Homo sapiens: one gene and its partners. The protein of the gene in region 2 interacts with the protein of the main gene of each other region in a pairwise test. Each region holds a gene or a part of one and is shown on either strand. Other genes may lie near its edges.

What was found.
Region 1: the proteins of IFI35 (region 2) and CYTH3 interact in binary tests that used the Homo sapiens proteins (3 or more experiments, as listed by UniProt).
Region 3: the proteins of IFI35 (region 2) and MAT2A interact in binary tests that used the Homo sapiens proteins (3 or more experiments, as listed by UniProt).

What each region holds. Positions count from the first base shown.
Region 1 is NC_000007.14:6,270,789-6,274,536, forward strand, and holds the start of CYTH3 (cytohesin-3), read right to left. Parts: upstream 1,837-3,748; 5' UTR 1,720-1,836; coding exon 1,686-1,719; intron 1-1,685. UniProt on the Homo sapiens protein: Promotes guanine-nucleotide exchange on ARF1 and ARF6. Promotes the activation of ARF factors through replacement of GDP with GTP. Plays a role in the epithelial polarization.
Region 2 is NC_000017.11:43,004,501-43,008,248, reverse strand, and holds the start of IFI35 (interferon-induced 35 kDa protein), read right to left. Parts: upstream 1,466-3,748; 5' UTR 1,302-1,465; coding exon 1,281-1,301; intron 1-1,280. UniProt on the Homo sapiens protein: Acts as a signaling pathway regulator involved in innate immune system response.
Region 3 is NC_000002.12:85,542,061-85,545,808, reverse strand, and holds the end of MAT2A (S-adenosylmethionine synthase), read right to left. Parts: intron 3,655-3,748; coding exon 3,436-3,654; intron 3,245-3,435; coding exon 3,062-3,244; intron 2,909-3,061; coding exon 2,775-2,908; intron 2,140-2,774; coding exon 2,037-2,139; 3' UTR 528-2,036; downstream 1-527. UniProt on the Homo sapiens protein: Catalyzes the formation of S-adenosylmethionine from methionine and ATP. The reaction comprises two steps that are both catalyzed by the same enzyme: formation of S-adenosylmethionine (AdoMet) and triphosphate, and subsequent hydrolysis of the triphosphate.

The DNA of each region.
Region 1 (3,748 bases), on a different chromosome or scaffold from region 2:
AAGACTTTTGATACTTCATATCATCCTTTGTTATAGTACTCAAGACCTGCAAATTGCTGGAGCACATTAAAGCCTCCTCTTTTCCTCTTTATTCCTGCTTTAATCTTCAAGTCTACATTTCTTTACTCACAGAGCCCAAAGCACCTTACAAACAAAACTGCCAAGCCAGCTAGCTGCCTTGACGCTAATGTCCAACGTCTGCATATTACAGTTGTCTTTCTTTTCTAACAAGGGAAAACAGCTATGCCCAAATTGTGACAGGCAGGAAACACGACATCCACCGGGAACCCATTCCTTAGGATCTCATGGCTCCAGACAGCCTGACTGTAGGAGGGTTCGCAACTGGGCGCCTTCGTTCCACAGCGCTCCCATCAACACACCCACTCGGTGCCACAGTGCTACCCCTAGCTTCAACTATAAGAACTGAACTCGCCAAATGCCATGACGGGTGCCAACTTCCCACCATCCTGGCTGCATCGCGTCTTTCAGCAAAAAAACATCTCCCTCTGAGCAGCACTTGAATTCTGGAAGGCACCTTGATGATGAACCACTTCATCCTGAAGCATTCAATACTGCTGATTCTTACAGGCAGCTGCACCGGCAGCCTGTAATTAAGATTTCTCTAAACTGCTCCCTTATTACATGGGGTTCTGATGATTCTGATGATTTCTCTGTCAGCTCAAAGGAGATCTTCAGGAAAAAAAAAAAAAGTCTAGAGAACCTCAACTTCGGCTGTTCCTGTAAAAACACGGGCATTAACCCTTTGCTTTCCAAAGCGAACACCCACTCCATACAGAGGCACGTTCCTCTGTTTTTAAAATCTAATTCCCAGCATGACCCAGCAGTCATTTGTATTCCACTAAATAATTTCCAACAAACACGATTCCTCCAGCAAGAGGAAACCGAACGTCAGACACAGACCACCTGGGCCACGACGCGCATCGACCCGACCCACTCGGGAGCACACCTGGCTCCGGGCACACCTGGCTCTCCGGTCTTGCCTCTGTGCTGGGTGCAGCTCGTGTCTCCCACCCTCGGCTCCACGGAGTTTTTTGCTCAATCTGTCGCGTCTGCCGTTTCCTAAAACGTCTACCCTGAACTGAACTCCAGCTGGCCCCCTCCCCGTTCGAGCAAATCCAGCGACCGTTTCTGACCCAAAGCCAAGCAGACTGTCACGCTTTCCAACCGTTTCCCCTGCCCTCCCGTCCTGTACACTCGAGGAGCCTCCAGTGCAAAACTTTCCCCTCCCGGTTTCCCACCGGCTCAGCCGCTTCCGCCCACCTGAGCTGAAAGGGGGCGTCCGAAACGCCGGGCTCCGGAGGGCATGAACGCCCTTGGCGACAAGATGCGGGGAAGGTCGCCCCGCAAGGTCCCCCGCCCCAGAGGAGCGACACCCAAACCCCGGCCCGAGACTCCGGGGCGACCCCAGCCCGCGGCAGCCCCGGCCTGGTACCCAGACCCTCGCCAGCGCCGAACGGCGACCCCGGCCCGCCCCCTCCCTCGGCCCCCGGAGACCCAGCCTCGGCCCTGGCCCGGCGTGCCTCAGGCCTCCAGCGGACGCCGCTGCCGCTGCCCCCGACCCCGTCTCCTCCGGCGAACCCCGGCCCAGCGCCGCGCCCTCGACCCCCAGCCCCCGGCCCCCGACCCCAGGCCGCCGGCGAGCCCACCACACCTCCGACACTCACCGCCACCACCCTCGCCGCCGCCGTCTTCATCCATCTTGAGGCCACTCCCGCAGCCGGCGAGCCGGGGGCCGGCAGCAGAGGGGCCGCGGGCTGGGGACGCCGCCGGAGGGAGCGCGCAGGCGACCGGGCGGCTCCTCAGCGCGCGGCCCGGGTCGCGGCCGGGCCTCCTCCCGCCGGGCGGGGCCTCGCTGGTCGGCGTGCCGTCACGTGACCCATGCCCCGCCTCTGCCCGCGGTGGGCGGGGCGTGAGGCCGCGCAGCCCCGCCCTCGGGAACCGGCCGGGCCGGCGGCGTCTGCGCTGGGGAAGGCTGTAGACCTGGCCCCTGAAGTGCAGGCCGATCCGGTGTGCGTGGAGCGAAGCCTCCTCGCCCTCAGCATTCCAGTAGCCTGCGGACGGGCGTGGGGCCCCGGACACTGGAACGCCACACTCTGCAAAACCCAGTGGCCAGGGGTGCAACTTGCACGTGCACTCGGGGTAAAAGATCAAGAAACGAATGCATTCAGAAGTCAGGCCTGGCCAGGCTCGGTGGCTCACACCTGTATTCCAATACTTTGAGAGGCTGAGGTGGGAGGATCGCTGGAGAACAAAAGTTGGAGACCAGCCCCGATAACATAGCGACCCAGGCATGGTGGCATGTGCCTGTAGTTCCAGCTACTGGGGAGGCTGAGGTGGGAGGTCACGTCACTTGAGCCCAGTAGGTAGAGGCTGCAGTGAGTTATTATTGCACCACTGCACTCCAGTCTGGGTGACAGAGTGAGACCCTGTCTCAAAAAAAAAAAGAACAAGGTCAGGCCTTCTCCTTCCTAAGACATGCATGTCAGAAGAATTCCAGCCTTTCAGCTGTCTTATATTTAATGGAGCCTCTCCTCCTTCCCTCCTGGTGAGTGCATTTTTAAATTAACAAAATGCAGGGCTTGTAAATGAATGTGGTCATGAGGTTGGAACGGAATCCCGATTCAACACACCTGGGGCTCAGCTCTCAAAGGGCATTGTAGGGGTTGGCCAATCTGGCGGCTGATGCCCTTGGAGTTTAGCGCCAGTCTTCCTTGGAGAGCTGCCAGCTGTCCTGGATTTATGATGCAGGAGGAGCTCTGAATTCAGTTTCCCTTGGGCACAGCCAGGGTCCTCAGCACAGGCCTCCTGGGCAGAAGGCCTCCCCTGGCCCCTGCTCCACATCGATGGATCTCCTCTCTCACTCCCCATATCTCTCTTCCAGTAACTCCTGAAGCATTGCTTGTGGCCCCTCCCAAGCCTTTCTGTTGGAACTCAATCGCATTAAAGAAAAGCAAACATTGTAATGGAGGAGATAGCTCATCTCTAATATAATTTTCCAGCAACTGTTTTATATTTACAAGCTGTCCATTGAACCAAAGGATCCTTCCGTTGTCATCTATCAAAGTGGACAATTTCACCTTTTGGTTCAAGGTTGCGGGATGATTTCAAAGTTCAATCTTCTAATAACCTCAAGAATTGAACACCAAGCATTCTCATGCAACCAAACCCACGAGGGACACTTTTTTTTTGAGACAGGGTCTCGCTCTATTGCCCAGTCTGGCATGCAGTGTCTCGAGTGATCCTCACACTTCAGCCTCCCAAATAGCTGGGACCATAGGTACATGCCACCATGCATCGGTTAATTTTTGTATTCTTTTTTAGAGACGAGATCTTGCCATGTTTGCCCATGCTTGTCTCAAACTTCTGGACTCAAGCGATCCTCCCACCTTGACCTCCCGAAGTGCTGGGATTACAGGCATGAGCCACCACACCCAGCCAAGGGACACTGCTGCGTGCAAAGGTGTTTGACAGCTTGAGTGACAAAGAGGCACCAGAAAAGGGGTCTGGGAGTCAGGAGATGTAGGGTTCAACTCCCAACCCCCAGACTCGGCTTCCTGATCTTGTTCCCGTCAGCTTTGTCATCTTGGAGATAAGAGCATCGTTACTGAGAAAAAATGACAGCATTACTTTGAACTTGATAATGAGATATGCAGAGCTTTGAACTCAAAGATACTATCAATTATAAATGCTTTTTCATGTCAATCTTAATTCTTTAGGTGTCTTAGAA
Region 2 (3,748 bases):
TCCCGGCTAACACGGTGAAACTCCATTTCTACTAAAAATACAAAAAATTAGCCAGGCATGGTGGAACGTGCCTGTACTCCCAGTTACTTGGGAGGCTGAGGCAGGAGAATCGCTTGAACCCGGGAGGCAGAGGTTGCAGTGAGCCGAGATCATGCCACTGTACTCCAGCCTAGGAGACAGAGTGAGACTCCGTCTCAAAAAAAAAAAAAAAAAAGGGATTGTCCTTGGGGAACTGGGGTTCTGAAAAGGTTGGCAATAATAATATTAAGAAGAAACACATATTGAATGCTCTGTAGGTGCTAAGCAGTGGGATAAGTTTTTACCGTGTTAATCTATGGATTACCTAGTGTGATTCTTAAAGTATAATTCTTATAGTATATATATATATATATATATATATAAATTTTGTGTGTGTGTGTGTGTGAGAGACAGTCTCCCTCTGTTGCCCAGAGTGGAGCATAGTGGTACAATCTCGGCTCACTGCAACCTCTGCCTCCCAGGTTCAAGCAATTCTCCCGCCTCAGTCTCCCTAGTAGCTGGGATTACAGGTGTGTGCCACCATGCCTGGCTAATTTTTGTGTTTTTAGTAGAGATGGGGTTTTGCTATGTTGGCCAGGCTGGTCTCGAACTCCTAACCTCAAGTGATCCACACGCCTCAGCCTCCCAAAGTGCTGGCTGGGATTACAGGTGTGAGCCAACACACCCAGCCTAATTCCTTTAGTTTAATTTTTTTTTTTTTTTTTTTAGACAGAGTCTCGCTGTGTCACCCAGGCTGGAGTGCAGTGATGCAATCTCGGCTCACTGCAACCTCCGCCTCCCAGGTTCAAGTGATTCTCCTGTCTCAGCCTCCCAAGTAGCTGGGATTACAGGCGCACACCACCACACACAGCTAATTTTTTGTATTTTAGTAGAGACGGATTTTCACTGTATTGCCAAGGCCTCCCAAAGTGCTAGGATGACAGGCGTGAGACACCACGCCCGGCCTAGAACAATTGTTATTTGGGTCACAGAACCCGCTGAGTATCTGATGGAAACTACAGATTCTCTCTCCAGAGAAGTGTACACACACAGGATTTAATGAGCTCCTCCTGTCTGAGGCAATAGGTTAGGGAACCAACTCTTGCAGAGGCAACCCCAGCCCTGTGTTTCTCCCCAGCCCTTCAGCAGGTCTGAGATGGGCAGGGTGAGGCTTGGCTGCCAGGCCCTGAGATATCTGCAGGTTCCTAGCCAAGAGGATTACTCCTGTTTCCCCACTTCCCAACTCCCTCCTCCTCACTTACGGCATCCAGTGGGGCTGACATGGGTCTCGGGTCTGTTTGGCAAGAGCTGAGGCTTCAGAGCTGGGCACAGTGGCAGAATTCACAGCAACTGAACTCTTGTTTGTACCCCCCAAAGGGCTGTGGTCTCTCTCAGCCCCAGCAAGACCCGAAATACACCTCAGGAGGCTCTGCTCGCAGGCTGTTTGCTTCCACTTTCATTTCCGTGAAATCCCTGCCTTCTGGCGCTCACATGCCGCCCCCTGCCGAGGCTTCCCCACCCCTGGGAGGAGCCTTCTTGGTCAGCAAAGTCGACTTCACTCAGCCAGGCTGCCTCAAGGAAAGCCACCTCACCCCAACTGCAAACTGGCCCCCATCAACCATTCCCAGCAATCTCCGACAAGCCCATTGGTAGACCCTGCTTTGTCAATGGATTATTTCCCTAGAGCCTAGAATAATGCTGGGCACATTGAACATTGATAAAATAATTGCTGAATGAGCTGGGTGCGGCGGCTCACACCTGTAATCCCAGCATTCTGGGAGGCCCAGGCGGGCAGATCACCTGAGGTCAGGAGTTAGAGACCAGCCTGGCCAACATGGTGAAACCCCACCTTTACTAAAAAAATACAAAAATTAGCCGGGCGTGGAGGTGCATTCCTGTAATCCCAGCTACTTGGGAGGCCGAGGCAGGAGAATAGCTGGAACCCGGAGGCAGAGGTTGCATTGAGCTGAGATGGTGCCATTGCACTCCAGCCTGGGTGACAAGAGTGAAACTCCATCTCAAAAAATAAATAAAACAATAATTGCTGAATGAATGAGAAACACAGTCAGGACAGATAACGCCCATAGTTCAAGTTCACAAAACTGCCGGGTGCGGTGGCTCACACCTGTAATCCCAGCACTTTGGGAGGCCCAGGTGGGCAGATCACCTGAGATCCCAAGTTAGACACCAGCCTGGCCAACGTGGTGAAACCCCGTCTTTACTAAAAAAATACAAAAATTATCCGGGTGTGGTGGTGTATTCCTGTAATCCCAGCTACTTGGGAGGCCGAGGCAGGAGAATAGCTGGAACCTGGGAGGCAGAGGTTGCATTGAGCCAAGATCGCGCTGTTGCACTCCAGCCTGAGTGACAAGAGCGAAACTCCATCTCAAAAAATAATAATTGCTGAATGAATGAGAAACACAATCAGGACAGATAAAGTCCACAGTTCAAGTTCACAAAACTGCCAGGCGCAGTGGCTCATGCCTTGTAATCCCAGCACTTTGGGAGGTCCAGGCGGGTGGATCACGAGACCATCCTGGCCACCATGGTGAAACCCTGTCCCTACTAAAATACAAAAAATTAGCCGGGCCGGATCACACCACTGCACTCCAGCCTGGGCAACAGAGTGAGATTCTGACTAAAAAAAAAAAAAAAGTGCCAATCCCAGCAGCTGGGCCCACTGGTAACATGTGCCTATAGTTCCAGCAGGTTGAGGCAGGAGGACTGCTTGAGCCCAGGAGTTCGAGGCCAGCCTGGGCAACACAGTGAATCTTGTCTCTTAAAAAAAAAAAAAAAAAAAAAAAAAAGGCTGGGTGCAGTGGCTCACGCCTGTAATCCCAGCACTTTGGGAGGCTGAGGCGGTGAATCACTTGAGGTCAGGAGTTTGAGACCAGCCTGACCAACATGGGGAAACCCTGTCTCTACTAAAAATACAAAAATTAGCCGGGCGTGGTGGCATGCGCCTGTAGTCCCAGCTACTCGGGAGGCTGAGACGGGGGAATCGCTTGAACCCGGGAGGCGGAGCTTGCAGTGAGCCGAGATCGTGCCACTGCACTCCAGCTGGGTGACAGAGCGAGACTCTGGCTCAAAAAAAAAAAAAAGAAAAAAGTTCACAAAACTGTTAACAGTGGCCAGCAAGGAGAGCTATCGTCTGCCCAACACGCTTGTGCCTTACATGAATTAACTCTTCAAAACAATGCCATGAAGTTGGTTCTATTTTCTTCACTTTACAGATGAGAAAATTGAGGCACAGAGCATTAGAAACTTGCCCAAGGTCACAGGGCTAGGAATCAAAGCATGGATCCAAACCTGGTAGGAACAGTATTTACACTTGGGCCTTGAGGTAGAGTGGAAAAAAATTTGCTGTATTTTTCCTCAAAAGTTTTAAATTCAGCCCCATTTCTGTGACCCTGAGTAGGCAAGCTACTTAATAGAAGTCTGTCTCAATAGAGATGCCTTAATACTTAAGTGTGTGAAGATTCAATTAAAAAGTTTCCTGGCTGGGTGCAGTGGCTCACACCTGTAATCCCAGCACTTTGGGACGCCAAGGTGGGTGGATCATGAGATCAGAAGTTCAAGACCATCCTGGCCAACATAGTGAAACCCCATCTCTTCTAAAAATACAAAAATTAGCTGGGTGTGGTAGCACACTCCTGTAGTCCTAGCTACTTGGGAGGCTGAGGCAGGAGAATCGCTTGAACCCCGGGGCGGGGCAGAAGTTGCAGTGAGC
Region 3 (3,748 bases), on a different chromosome or scaffold from region 2:
CTCATAATTTAAAAATGTATGCAGATTAATAGGCTTAAATTGCCAGGACTTTAGATAGACATTACCACTTCCAGGTTAATACTTTTAGCGGTTTTTATGCCTTCAATGGTTTGAAGCCCTCAACCTTAGTTGAAAACTTAAAAATGGCATTGAATGGCTGCTGCAATAAGGACACATGAATTTTGGCTTAAGTGGACTAGGAGGACTAAATCTTGCTTAGGCTTTTAAAAAATGCCCACCCACTGGGTCTAGGGATTGAGGTTATTTTCCTGAATTATGGCTAATTATGGATTACAATTCAAGGTTAAAGATACACATATAGTATTCTCAGGTTATTCATATGATAGCATTTTTTAAGAGCCAAAGTCTCAGTCACCCAGGCTGGAGTGCAGTGGCTTGATAATGGTTCGCTACAGCCTCCAACTTCTATGTTAAAGTGATCCTCCTACCTCAGCCTTTCAAAGTGTTGGGATTATAGGCACGTACCTATGGCCCCAAAGCACTTTAACAAATGAGTAACAGACACAGTTAAGGTAGAACCTAGCATTTTATTTAGATCTTCATTAAACTGTTGGAATTGAGAACCAGACATACGTAATAAACCTCCAAAAATAGATCCTGAAAGGCACTTTCTGCTTAGGGCAAGCAGTCATGGAATAAGCATGTAAACAAGCTGGCTTCTCTGTACCACACCAGCCAAGTCAGCTTTCTCCATGGCCAGCCGCACCAGCTCTGCCCTCCCTTCTGTTAACACCAGCCAGACCCCCTGTAGGTCTAACCCAAGGTTTTTCTGTAGGACACCTTGGCCTACCTGGGAATGCTGGAAACATGTTGTTAAAGGAATCATGGTGTTGAGAGAAAAAAAAAAAATCTTTTAAAAGCTGCCATCTGAGGTGATGGCTTCTCTGTACTTACGCCATACCCCAGAATACAATAAATAAGCAATTAGAAAACGTTCAAGTATGAAGGGATTTCCTCCTCCCCGCCAAAAGCACTGCTCTCTGAAGGAAGCTGGTTTCTCTGTAGCTACACCAGCTGTTCAGAAAGCTCATTGGACCTGGTTTTGAAAATAAAACAAAGTTAAAACCCTGGGAGGAGTTATTGTGCAGTGTGGAGTACTCAGGCTTTCTTATAAAGAAAAAAAAAAGTTATCTGGTACCAAAGTGTGCAACCTACAGACCCTCAGGTACTGCCCTGTGACTTCTCTGTATGACATCACAAGGCTGCCAAGTGCCTGTTTTTCTAGAACTAGGAGTTGGTGAGGTTTGGCTAGTGCTGAAACCATGCATAGGATTGGTTTACTAAATTAAAACCTTATTACGTACGTCCTCCAAAAGACAGCTGAAAGTGGAGAGATTTTGATTTGGTGCTGTTAGAGGTGGCAATTAAGAGCATAAGCACCAGGGAGATGGTTTAATGGTAACTGCCTTTTTTGATGTCAGGCTGGAGCTCCAACTGGGAACTTGCGTTACATGCAAGATTGATTGGATAGGGAACACTCCCTGACAAAGAGCTACATAATTAGAAATGGATCAAGTTACAGGGAGGATAAGGGGAAGGCTTCACATTCATAATAGAGCTCAAGACATTACAAATTCATGCTGACAGGGCTGTGGCATTGCCAGACAGAGGCTATAAGTGGAACTACAAGTACTTTACGTGCACATCACAAGGACATTTTCAGCATCTGGTGGGGAAAGTCAATGCAATTATGACTTTGGAGCGTTGGGTGATAGGGCACAAAGGTTCAATTTCAAAGCATTATTTACTACAGTGTTGTTTCTAGGCAGTTACATGGATCACCTATGCTCACTAAATTCATTATAATGGTGAACAAAACACCTAGGGACAGAATAGCAAGCCCAACTTACAGTCCCCCACAAAAGCTAAAATTCATGTCATTGACTAGAGTGACTGCAACTGGTCAGGAGCTGAAAGAGGACAGGAAAATTTAGGAAGGAGGGCCCTTTCCCTCAGAGCTTGAAGGCTTCTCTGTAGCCTACGCCAACAAGTCTGGGGAAAAAAGGCTAACACTTTCAATATTTAAGCTTTTTGGGCACTTCCCATGGGAAGCTGTCCCTACCAAAGTGGCCATAGGCTGCAGTCCTCTGATAAATTGGCTTCTTCAGATCCAGATCCCTGGAATATACAAGTCCGTAACTTAATATGTAGCATTAAATTAAAATAAAGCAAAACAATCAGCAAGACTCATTTTCAAGAGCTCTGGCAAATGAGTTCTCTGGGATATGCTAGGAAAAAAATTTGTGGCAAAAGTGTTACTTCCCTGGTGTCCAAACTCCTTGCACAGTCCTTATTAGTAACTATAGTTGTTTTTCCGTCCCTGGCTCAACAAATACGAAAACTTGTCATTATTCTGAGAAATTTCAATTGTCAAAAAGCTCACCTGAGATCACACAATACTTACCAAGGTCCCGCCGCCCACACCCTACCATGGTTTTTACATTGCAACAAACCTTGAGCAACCCACTTTATCTCTATTTTCTTAACACCCTTAAGTAGAAGAGCACAAAGCTCAAATATCAAATCTGGAACATTCTCTAGAGTGGTTAGCCTAAGCCATGGAGCACCGTAATTTTAAATTTCTCAAATAACTAAGTCTTCACTAAGGCAGCAGTTCAAAACTGTTCCAGGAATTAAAATATATTCCCATTTGAGGAGTCTTCCTTCACACCTTCACCTCCTCAGCCTTAAGTATATACACACACACCCAACACCCTCAATACTTGACTAGCAACAGGCTTTACCATCTTTACCTGACAATGACCCCAGGGCGGAGATCGAAATTCTTCTTCACAATCTCTAATAGCTCTCTCTCACTCTTCTGAGAGGTACCATAATGGAAAATGGAGATAGATAATGGATGAGAAACTCCAATAGCATAAGAGACCTAAAAGGATTCAAATGTCGTAAGAATCAGTGATTGCAAAGACCCATATACTTGTATAATACGTTGGTATAAAACAAGTAGTTAAGTAGATTACTACTAAATACCCTCCCACTTACATGACTTTTAATCGTTCGTTATATAAAGAGTGTATACCTGAACAAGAACCCTCCGGCACAGACCTCCTTTAACAAGGGATTTTGCCACCCAACGAGCAGCATAAGCAGCTGAACGGTCGACCTTGGTATAATCCTTTCCTGAAAAGGCACCTCCTCCATGAGCACCCCAACCGCCATAAGTGTCCACAATGATTTTGCGTCCAGTCAAACCAGCATCACCCTGAAATTACAGGATTTAAGTTACTTTACGCCTAGTGCTTTCCAAGTGGATTAGGTTGCCTATTCTGAATTCATTCAGCAAATATCCTCCGATGATTCACATGTAGGTTTCAGAAAGCCTGAAAAAAATGTAGTAGCCAAAATTTTAAGTAACCATCAAAAATCCAGAAAAATGCAACAAAATGACATTACCTGAGGCCCACCAATAACAAATCTGCCACTTGGCTGTAGGTGGTAGATTGTATCCTCATCAAGGTATTTCGCAGGCACAACTGCTTTGATGACTTTCTCCTTTAGGGCATCCCTCATTTCATCAAGACAAACCTCTTCATCATGCTGAACAGATATAACAATTGTGTGGACTCTGATGGGAAGCACAGCACCTCGATCCTGCATATACTGCACAGTAACCTTGAAGGCAACACAGGTCATCAGAACATCACACCAAACAATAACTTTGTATTTGTTTCTCTACCTGAAGTTACAATATAGGAAAACAAATGCT